3 linked regions of the Homo sapiens genome follow. The protein of the gene in region 1 interacts with the protein of each later gene in a pairwise test. Each region holds a gene or a part of one and is shown in the gene's direction. Other genes may lie near its edges. The genes, in order: TYMS, SH3GL2 and UPF2.

What was found.
Region 2: the proteins of TYMS (region 1) and SH3GL2 interact in a two-hybrid assay, tested with the Homo sapiens proteins (one large-scale study listed by BioGRID and IntAct).
Region 3: the proteins of TYMS (region 1) and UPF2 interact in a two-hybrid assay, tested with the Homo sapiens proteins (one large-scale study listed by BioGRID).

Annotation. Positions count from the first base shown.
Region 1 is NC_000018.10:667,602-671,045, forward strand, and holds part of TYMS (thymidylate synthase), read left to right. Parts: exon of another isoform or gene 1-78; coding exon of another isoform or gene 79-151; intron 152-1,470; coding exon 1,471-1,572; intron 1,573-2,716; exon of another isoform or gene 2,717-3,090; coding exon 3,091-3,266; exon of another isoform or gene 3,267-3,444. UniProt on the Homo sapiens protein: Catalyzes the reductive methylation of 2'-deoxyuridine 5'-monophosphate (dUMP) to thymidine 5'-monophosphate (dTMP), using the cosubstrate, 5,10- methylenetetrahydrofolate (CH2H4folate) as a 1-carbon donor and reductant and contributes to the de novo mitochondrial thymidylate biosynthesis pathway.
Region 2 is NC_000009.12:17,585,439-17,589,169, forward strand, and holds part of SH3GL2 (endophilin-A1), read left to right. Parts: intron 1-3,731. UniProt on the Homo sapiens protein: Implicated in synaptic vesicle endocytosis. May recruit other proteins to membranes with high curvature. Required for BDNF-dependent dendrite outgrowth.
Region 3 is NC_000010.11:11,920,810-11,924,309, reverse strand, and holds part of UPF2 (regulator of nonsense transcripts 2), read left to right. Parts: intron 1-3,002; coding exon 3,003-3,012; 3' UTR 3,013-3,500. UniProt on the Homo sapiens protein: Involved in nonsense-mediated decay (NMD) of mRNAs containing premature stop codons by associating with the nuclear exon junction complex (EJC).

The DNA of each region.
Region 1 (3,444 bases):
GATGGTGATGGAGATGGGTGATGGTGATGGTTGCCTAACATCAGGAACGTGCTTAATGCTTCTGAATTGCACACAAAAATGGCAAGTTTAATATTATGTGTACTTTATCACAATGAAAAAAGCTGCTGCGTGGGCCAAGTTACTTGTGCAGGTAAGTGTTCTGCAGGTCGTTGCCTGCACCTCAGTTGTAGGGTGTCCGTAGGATGTGAGGCCAGTCCCCGGGCTTAATGATGCTTTAAATCCTGCCTAGTATTCAATTATTTCTTGTCGCTTAAAAGGCCTAATAAAATTATGGTTTTAGTTTACAGTGGTATGAATGCTTAGCTGTTGGATTTTAGTAGGAAAGTTTGTCCCTTTTTGTTTTTAATTTTGTTTTACAGATTCACAGGAATTTTTTTTTTTTTTTTTTTAATGCACAGAAAGTTTCCCTGGACACACTACCCAGTTTCCCCCAGTGATAATATCTTGGGTAACATCCTGTATACATTCACATTGGTGCATTCCTCAGAGTTGTCAGATTTTGCTAGTTTTACGTGCACTTGTGTATGTGTGTATTTGCAATTTTAGCACGTGTAGACTCTTGTAACCACTACAATCAAGTTACAGAACTACACTACCAAGGTTCATCTTTTTAAAATCTTTGATGTTACCTTTTTCGGAACAGTGACCATGAGAGGACTTTCCTCCCAAAATTTTGAGAACTACTGAACCAGAATATAGTCTGACACTAATAGGTAGAAATTTAACCAAAGGAGATTATGAAGCTCTGCACTTCAGTTAACAAATCACTTCTCAGCTTCCAGTTCCATCTCAGAAGGAAGGAAAGGGATTAAAATCCAGAGACCAGAAATGGGAGCAAAGTACAAGGTGGTGTAATCATTACAGAGGTTTCCTGATGTTTCCAAGTCAGTCGTGTGTTGAGCTGCTAAACTCTAAAGTAATTTTAGGTGGAAGTGTTGGAAACATGCTGCTGAGGTGATAGAAAGGAATCCATGGTCCTCTGTTAGTTGGAAAGTATATGGAATACTATATTCTACATAAGATACAACACTCTCTGTGAGACAAGGATAAAGTAGATTTTGTCAGTGAAATTGTGACAAGAATCGCTGATGGGTTTAGAGCCTAAGTTTGCGAGGAGCACTGGAAGAAATTAAGATTGTTGAGATTGGAAAGGGTTAGCTATGGGGGGAACAGGAGGAGGTGACTCCATGACAGACCAAATATTCAAAGGACTGTGTAGAAGAGGAAAAAGACTTTGTTAGGGCTCCAGAGGACAGAGCCAGGAGTCAGACAGGGCCTTGAACTCAACCCACCGAGATCTGCAAACTTTGCAGGATGCACCAGATGTCTTGTAGCCATGGGTCAAGGGGGGACCCTGGGTAAGAGACTGTAATAGATGACCTCTAAGGCCATCTCATGACATGTGTGATTAATGTATGTACCTGTCCTCTCTTTTTGACAATTCTACAGATTATTCAGGACAGGGAGTTGACCAACTGCAAAGAGTGATTGACACCATCAAAACCAACCCTGACGACAGAAGAATCATCATGTGCGCTTGGAATCCAAGAGGTTGAAAGAACCCCGTCGTCTTCATTTATACTAACCATACTCTTAGAGGGAAGCAATCTGGTTTTGTGCAGAGGCACCTGAGGGAGGCAGGACCCTGGGAACTTCCCCCAGCCACATGGTTGATTGTGTGACGTTGGGCAAGTCACATTTTGCTGCACTTTCACCTTCAGATCATGAGGTTGGGCCCAGAGGATTTTTTTTTTTTTTTTTTTTTTTTGAGACAGAGTTTTGCTCTGTTGCCCAGGCTGGAATGCAACGGCGTGATCTTGGCTCACTGTAACCTCTGCCTCCTGGGTTCGAGTGATTCTCCTGCCTCAGCCTCCCAAGTAGCTGGGATTACAGGCATGTGCCACCATGCCCGGCTAATTTTGTATTTTTAGTAGAGACGGGGTTTCACCATGTTGGTCAGGCTGGTCTTGAACTCCTGACCTCAGATGATCTGCCTGCCTCAGCCTCCCAACCAGATGATCTTAATTTGTGTATTTATACTCATTCTTACACCAAAAAGGGTTTTAAATTGCCTAGAAACTACATGTAAGATGTTAACATTTTAAATGGAAGCAGATGAAGTTCCAGCTCGCTGCCACCTCACTAACATTTTTAACAATTATATTGTAAAATTCAACTCTACCAGGGTGTAGAGCCAGGTGTGGTGGCTCACACCTGTAATTCCAACAACTCCAGAGGCCAAGGCGAGAGGATCATTTGAACCCAGGAATTTGAGGCTGTAGTGAGTCATGATCACGCCATTGCACTCCAGCCTGGGCAACAGAGTGAGACCCTGAATATTTAAAAACAACAACAACAACAAAACTCTATCAGGATATCATAAGTACTTAGAGTGAAATACTTGCATCTGTAATAGAGACTTATTTTTTTTTTTTTTTTGAGACACAGTCTCACCCTGTTGCCCAGGCTGGAGTGCAGTGGTGTGATCTCCGCTCACGGCAACCTCCATCTCCCAGGTTCAAGTGAGTTCCCATTCCTCAGCCCCAGAGCTGGGACCACAGGCGCGCGAATTTTTGTATTTTTAGCAGAGACGGGGTTTCACTATGTTGGCCAGGCTAGTCTCGAACTCAAGTTGGCCTCAAGTGATCTGCCCACCCTGGCGTCCCAGTGTTGGGATTTCAGGCATGAGCCACTGTGCCTGGCCATGTAATAGAGACTTTTAATATAGGAGGGTGTACCAGAAGCACCAGTTTCCTGTGGCAAACAGAATTATTCCTGCTGTATTTGTAATCTGGTGCCACGAGGTAGCCCAGATCCCTTCAGCTCTGATGGAAGAGCATTGCTTCAGCCGTAAATGGACACCTGCAGAAACCTTGCACCGATGGATAGTCTCCCTCAGCTCCGTGCCATCGCTGCAGAGGCTGTTATGGACATCACTGCAGCCCAGTGGCTCTCTCTCCTGGTCTCCACCATATGAGTTGGCTTCTGTTTCTCTCCTGTTTTACTTTGCCTTTAGCTGTGGTCTTTCAAACCACCATCCCTCCTTATCTTCCTCTGCTGGTTCCTCAGATCTTCCTCTGATGGCGCTGCCTCCATGCCATGCCCTCTGCCAGTTCTATGTGGTGAACAGTGAGCTGTCCTGCCAGCTGTACCAGAGATCGGGAGACATGGGCCTCGGTGTGCCTTTCAACATCGCCAGCTACGCCCTGCTCACGTACATGATTGCGCACATCACGGGCCTGAAGGTGGGCTGTCTCGGGAAGGGTGACTTGCCAGCCTACCACACTGAGCTCTTCAGTTCTTTAATATGGGAAAACAAATTGCAGAGTTTAGTCTCTGATTAGCTTTTAAATTTGATATGTGTAAGTAAGAAATGAACCAGCTTTTACTTTGAAACCTTCCTCTTCTGGAAGGTTTTCTGGC
Region 2 (3,731 bases), on another chromosome or scaffold:
CTTTTAGGTAATGTTCAGTGAGGTGTAGCCACAAGAGGGGACATAGGAGAGGCTCAAGAAAACAGAGTTTATTATACTCACATGTCTTAGAATGACAATCACTGTACAGGAGGATAGGAGGGGGGACACGTGGGGTGGAGGTGACAGCTCTGAGAGCAGGATCAGCTAAGCAGGTGGGAAACAGGTGGGAGCAGAGAGAGCAAGGACTGTGGGCAAGTGCCTTTACTAGTGATCTCAGTGCAGTTCACAGCTCAGTGCAGTTCACAGTGCGTTGCATTGGTGCATTGGTAGGTCGTGGTCAGAAGAAGACAGAGAGGTGAACTTGTGGTAGGGGCCAACCTTATCAAACTTGTGCACCTGGTTACCTGGGTGGGGTGTTCACAGTTAGCGTATGTGGGAATGAATGTTGAGGCAGCAAGAGGCAGCAGGAGACAACATGTGAAGTTTTGAAACTTTGTAGTACAACCCTTCTCAGTGTTTTTGGTTTAGAATTTATTGTTTCCATAATCACTTAAGGAGCCTAAAAGCTTAAGAATGATGTACATGGTATCCGATGGATAATAAAGACTAAAGAGAGCTATAACTATACTTATTAAAATGCCATGATTGTGAGACCCTGCCAAGTCTTTTGCATTCTACCAACAAAATATTTTCATGCTATACTAAATCATTAGCTGATGACAAATGCTTCAGGAAATAATTTCACTATTTATAAAGGTTTTACATTTAGTACAACTTCTAAATGCCAAATATGATGTTGTAGTTGCTCTACCCTAATCTCCCTCCGCCATCCCCTGGGTCAAATTGTATATAGTAGTAATGAATATGGAGAAGCTGTCTGTAATACTCGTGAAGAACCCACAGCTCCATGGAGGTTTACTTGGATACTTAGGACACTGAAGGACCTCTAGGCAGTGTTTTCTGCCTTTTTTTGAATTATGATATATATAAAAAATAGAAATATCTTTTTTATAATTCAAACTAACCTTTCCCCATAGATACTAATGGAAGCAGTTTTATAATGCTGAGAAACATCTCAATATCAAGCTATGTATTAGTCTGTTCTCATGTTGCTAATAAAGGCATACCCGAGACTGGGTAATTTATAAAGGAAAGAGGTGTAATTGACTCACAGTTCTGCATGGCTAGGGAGGGCTCAGGAAACTTACAGTCATGGCAGAAGGGGGATCAAAAATGTCCTTCACATGACGGCAGCAAGGAGAAGTACAGAGCAAAGTGGGGTAAAAGCCCCTTATAAAACCGTCAGCTCTCGTGAGAATTCACTCACTATCACGAGAACAGTGTGGCGGTAACCACCCCTATGATTCAATTACCTCCCACCAGGTCCCTCCCATGACACATGGGGATTGTGGGAACTACAGTTTAAGATGAGATTTGGGTGGGGACACAGCCAAACCGTATCACAGAATAATGCTTGAAAGAAACATAAAGCAGATAGCCTATGCTTTTAAACGTACAGGAAATCGGCTGGGTGCGGTGGCTCATGCCTGCAATCCCAGCACTTTGGGAGGTCGAGGCAGGCAGATCACTTGAGGAGTTTGAGACCAGCTTGGCCAACATGGCAAAACCTCGTCTCTACTAAAAATGGGAAAATTAGCCAGGCTTGGTGATGCACAGCTGTATTTCTGGCTACTCAGGAGGCTGAGGCAGGAGAATTGCTTGCACCTGGGAGGCGGAGGCTACAGTGAGCCAAGATCACACCGTTGCACTCCAGCCTGGGCGACAGAGCGAGACTGTCTCAAAAACAAAACAAAACAAAACAAAAAGTACAGGAAATAATGTCCACAGTGAATGACTCCAGTGAGGAAAGGAGAGAAGGGGAGTCAGGACAGTTATTGTCCATAACAGTGATGGCATCCTGCAGGGGGCATTGTGAAATCCCCTGCCTGCCAGTAGAGGAAGTTCCTTGGTTTTACAATCTGGCTCTGCAATCTGGGAAGAACTCTTGTTCTTTCTTATATATATTTGGCCAGGTCTAAGGAGGGTTAGAGGAAATCTGCCCTCTTTGGGAACGGCATAACTTTTCAGTCAACTTCCTGTTTATTTAAATTTGGGGATTGTTTTACAGTCATAGGGTTTTCACTATCCATGGTAGATTTGAGTAATGAAATTTCTTCATAAACTTAGTAGGCTTCTGGCCAAGTGCGGTAGCTCATGCCTGTAATCCCCGCACTTTGGGAGGCCGAGGTGGGCGGGTCACCTGAGGCCAGGGGTTCAAGACCAGCCTGGACAACATGGTGAAGCCGCTTCTCTACTAAAACTACAAAAATTAGCCAGGCATGGTGGCCTACGCCTGTAGTCCCAGCTACTCGGGAGGCTGAAGCTTGAACCTGGGAGAGTTGCTTGAACCTGGGAGGCAGAGGTTGCAGTGAGCCAGATTGCACCACTGCACTCCAGCCTGAGCAGTAGAGCAAGTCACTGTCTCAAAAAAACAAAAACCAAAAAAAAAAAACCAGAAAAACTTCAACTTAATAGGCTTCTGATGTGTTTTCTTGTGAGTTTCATTTGCCAATTTCTATGATGGAAATTCTTTTTTAGACCTAATTTTCATCCAGTAGACTTGGTTGTGTTACTCTGAACTTAACAAGAGGGCCTGATACTTTGGCTTAACCAAGAAGTCTTAATGGTACTTTGTTGCTCAAAGTCTTTTTCATTTATATTTCCCGTTATTTGCTTCAGGGACTCAGGATGACCCTGGATCGGTTCTGCCATCTGTAACATATGGTTTTCAAGGTTGCCAAAGGGAAAGAATATGTTTGAACAAGCATGGGAGATGTTCATAAGCCAGGCCTGGAAGAGGAATATGGTAGACAGAATGCTACGATTGTTGGTGACTCTTGCTCTTGTGTACTCTCCTCCCCTTTGAGTGTGGGTGCAATGTTCAATTTGAAAAGATGTTATTCCTGAGACTTTTAACTTTGTAAGACAAAAGGGAGATTATATGATTGGACTTAATCTAATCTCATGAGCCCTTTAAAAGCAGGATATTTTCTCTGGCTGGTAGTGGAAGGAAAAATCAGAGAGATTGGAAGTATGAGCAGGACTGGACATGCTGTTGTTGGTTTAAAGAGGGAGGGGCCATGTGAGTAGTAATGCAGGCAGCCTCTAGGAGCAGAAATCAGCTCTTTGGTGACCATCAGCAGGGAAAATAGGGATCTTAGACCCACAGCCTTGAAGAATCTGAGAGGAAGGGAATTCTTCCCCCAAGCTTCCAGATAAGAGCCCAGTCTAGCCAACGCCTTCATTTTGGCCTTGTGAGGCCCTCAACAGGGAGCTCACTTAAGCAGGCCCAGACTTCTAATTTATAGAATTGTAAGATAATAAATGGGTATTGTTTTAAGCTGCTAAATTTGTGGTAATTTGTTATACAACAGCTGAAAATGAAGAGAAGGAATAGTTCCTTCTGTTTATGTTTGGTTGGCTGGAACTTGTAACATGGCCCCTCTGTGGTACACCTAAGAGAAATGGAAGAAGGCAAGTGTAGCCTAGCTATGTGCCCAGGATGTAAAAGTGGGTTTTTGGTTAAAAAGCTAGCAGTTTTGCTATTACTGGTGCCTATAATTAATTAATTGTGTGTCTGTATATTAATCTATTTGTGAGCTTGTAAGTGTATGTATATGTGCATATGTCCATATGTACATACACAACATACATATGCACATATGAATTTTAAGTCTAGTTTGCTGAATAAGTCTTTTCTTAATACATAA
Region 3 (3,500 bases), on another chromosome or scaffold:
CACCACGCCCGGCATAAACTATTTTTCTCCTGTAGCTTTTGATGGACTCCCAGATTTTAATTTGTATTTGTATATTTTCTAACCAGGAGATCCTTGAAATAAGGACATAAATTAAAATTTCAGCCCTTTAACAAATAAGAGGCATTTGCTTACAATGAGTTGAAACGGCAGCAGTGCTGTAAGTAAAACTATTATGTAGGGTTTTCTGTATTGCAGAACAAGGTTGTTTTTCTAATACACTAGTATTGAAAATCTGTGAAACTTAACATTTTTGGCAAGTGTTAATACTTACATGGCTTAGATGGTACTAATTCATATGGGTTATTTCAATGCTTCTCAAACTTTAAAATACGTATTAACTCTCTAGACTCTTACTAAAAAGCAAGTTCTGATTAGTTTCTTTTATTATTATTTTTTAATTATTGTGGAAAGCTTCACGAATTTGTGTGTCATTCTTTTTTGTTGTTTTTTGAGATGGAGTCTTGTTCTGTTGCCCAGGCTGGAGTGCAGTGCCGGGATCTCGGCTCACTGCAACCTCTGCCTCCCGAGTTCAAGCAATTCTTGTGCCTCAGCCTCCCAAGTAGCTGTGATTACAGGCATGTGCCACCACGCCCAGCTAATTTTTTTTTTTTTTTTTTTGAGATGGGGTCTCGCTATATCGGAGTGCAGTGGCGTGATCTCTGCTCACTGCAACCTCCGCCTCCCGGGTTCAAGCAATTCTCTGCCTCAGCCTCCCGAGTAGCTGGGATTACAGGCACCTGCCACCACACCTGGCTAATTTTTGTATTTCTAGTAGAGACGGGGTTTCACCATCTTGGCCAGGCTGGTCTTGAACTCCTGACCTCATGATCCACCCTCCTCGGCCTCCCAAAGTGCTGGGATTACAGGCATGAGCCACCGCGCCCAGCCAAATTTTTGTATTTTTAGTAGAGATGAGGTCTCACCATGTTGGCCAGGCTGGTCTCCAAAACTCCTGACCTCAAGTGATCTGCCTGCGTTAGCCTCCCAAAGTGCTGAGGGTACAGGCGTGAGCCACTGCACCCCACCTGCATGTCATCCTTGCACAGGGCCATGCTAGTCTTCTCTGTATCACTACAATTTTTAGTATATGTGCTGCTGAAGTGAGCACAACAAGCTCTGGTTACTTTTAAACAAGATCTCCAGTGATGTCAAAACTGCTGGTGTGTGGCCTACACTTAGCGGCATAGGAGTATACTATCTGACTTTTAAACCCATCTTTTTAAAAATGATTTTGTTGTTGTTTTATTTTGTTTTTGAGACAGGTTCTTGCTCTGTCACCCAGGCTGGAGTACAGTGGCGTGATCACAGGTCACCGCAGCCTCGACCTCCTGGGCTCAAGCAGTCCTGCCTCAGCCTCTCAGTATCTGGGACTATAGGCACACACCACTACAAATGGCTAATTTTTTTTATTTTTAGTGGAGTCGAGGTCTCACTATGTTGCCCAGGCTGATATTGAACTCTTGTAAACCTATCTTAAGTAGAGTCTGCATTTTTTCATCAGATTTTTTTTTTATATATCTTTATGTAAGGTTAAATTAGTGATAGTTTTGTTATACAATAGAGTCCATTGTAGAATTGCATTTAATCCAAAGTGTATATTGTATTAATAAACAGTTTTTGAGCTGATAGATTTTTGAGTCACTCAGAATGATTGTTTGCTTATAAACCAGTCAAATGACACCTTACACTATAACTAGTGATATAACTATACCTTACTTAGCAAAGATTTTGAACATTTTTTTCCTGTCATTTACTGCATTTATTTAAAGTATTCTAGGTTAGATAGCTGCCTTTTCTTGACTTCAGGAGAGATGCTTGAATCTTCTCTTTCATTCCCTCAGGGAATACTTGTGTTCTTTCCATCAGTTCATTTCTGGAAGAGTTACGGATCTTATCCAGCTGAGGATATACTTTTCCATATTTGCATCTTAACGCTTTGAAAGTTTCTTGCTAAGGTAGCTTGCTCTGTAAGAAACAAACTGTTCATCTGCTTGGGCTGCCATGACAAAATATTACAGCCCTAGTAGCTTAAACGACAGATGTCTGTTGTCTCGCAGCACTGGAGGCCGCCGGCAGGAAACCTGAGGTCAGGGAGTCAGCGGGGCTGGTTCCTTCTGAGGCCTGGAGGAAGACTGCTCCAGGCCTGCCTTCTACTGCTGGGGGTGCCGGCAGTCTTTGGCTTCCATACCTTGTCATACCTCACCCTGGTCTCCGCCTTTGTCTTCACGTGGCCTTTTCCCCCTGTGTGTGTCTGTGTGCAAATTTCCCTTTTTATAGAGATGCAGTCATATGGGATTAGGGCTCCACCCTGCTCCAGTATGGCCTTATCTGAAGTAATTACGTCTACAGCAACCTTGTTTCCAAATACGGTCACATTCTGAGGTCCTGCAGTTCAGTGTTAACATGTGAATTTTGGGGATACACAACTGAACCATAACACAAACTGTGAATTCTTAGCACCTTAAGAATAAGTTGTAGAAGAGAACAGAGCCACTCCTCCAGCCATTGCTCCAATGGCTCTGGTTAAGTTGTAGCTCAGTAGAGAGCATGAATGCTCTCAAAAAAGCACTACAGTTGTCCTCGGTATCCACAGGGGGTTGCTTCCTGGATCCCCTCAGACACCAAAATGCACAGACATTCAAGTCCCTGGTAAAAAATGGTGTAGCATTTATGTATAACATATGCACATCCTCCCGTGTACTTTACATCATCTCTACATTACTTGTAATACCTAATAAAGTGTAGATGCTATGGAGATAGTTGATATACTGTATTGTTTTTAATATTTATGTTATTTTTTATTGTTTGGGTTTTTTTCCCCCGAATATTTTTGGTCCATGGATGTGGAACCCGCAGATGCCAGGGCCACCTGTAACTTGGGGGAGTGACTTGGTGGTGGTGGGTAGCGTTGCAGACGCCATCTTGCTGGACTTTGTCCTGTGGCAGTAAGCTCTCTGATGTGACCCTGTTTGTTCCTTTAGGAGACGTTGATCCAGCAGCACGTGTCATTTCATTAGGTCCTGTATCTGATGTTGTGGTTAGTGGAGTCCTCCAGCAATTGAATGAGAGCAGTGGACACATCTCAGCAGGTCGGTCTAGAGAGTTGCGAATCTAAACCTGGGACAGGCTGGGGCCAGGAGGCAGAAACACCAGCCTCTGCCAACACCGGAACAAGCCGACGCTTCCAGACAAGGCGGAAAAGGCCTTTTGTAATGGAAATCTCGCGAGGGTTAATCTTCTCTTGAGAATGGCAGTCAAGAAATGAGATGGTTCACTTGACTACTGAGCAGTTACACCAAGGAGAGCGTGAAGGAGATGATTGAGCCAGAGAAGAAACGGGTTGTGATGGTAATGGTGTGGGGGAAATGAACTTGAGCTTTAAACTTGATTTGAGTTTCAGTGTCTCTGAATTGAACATCCCACGTTGGAAGAAGATACATTTGGGGGCTCCAGGACTACAGTAGAAAAGTATAGAGCAA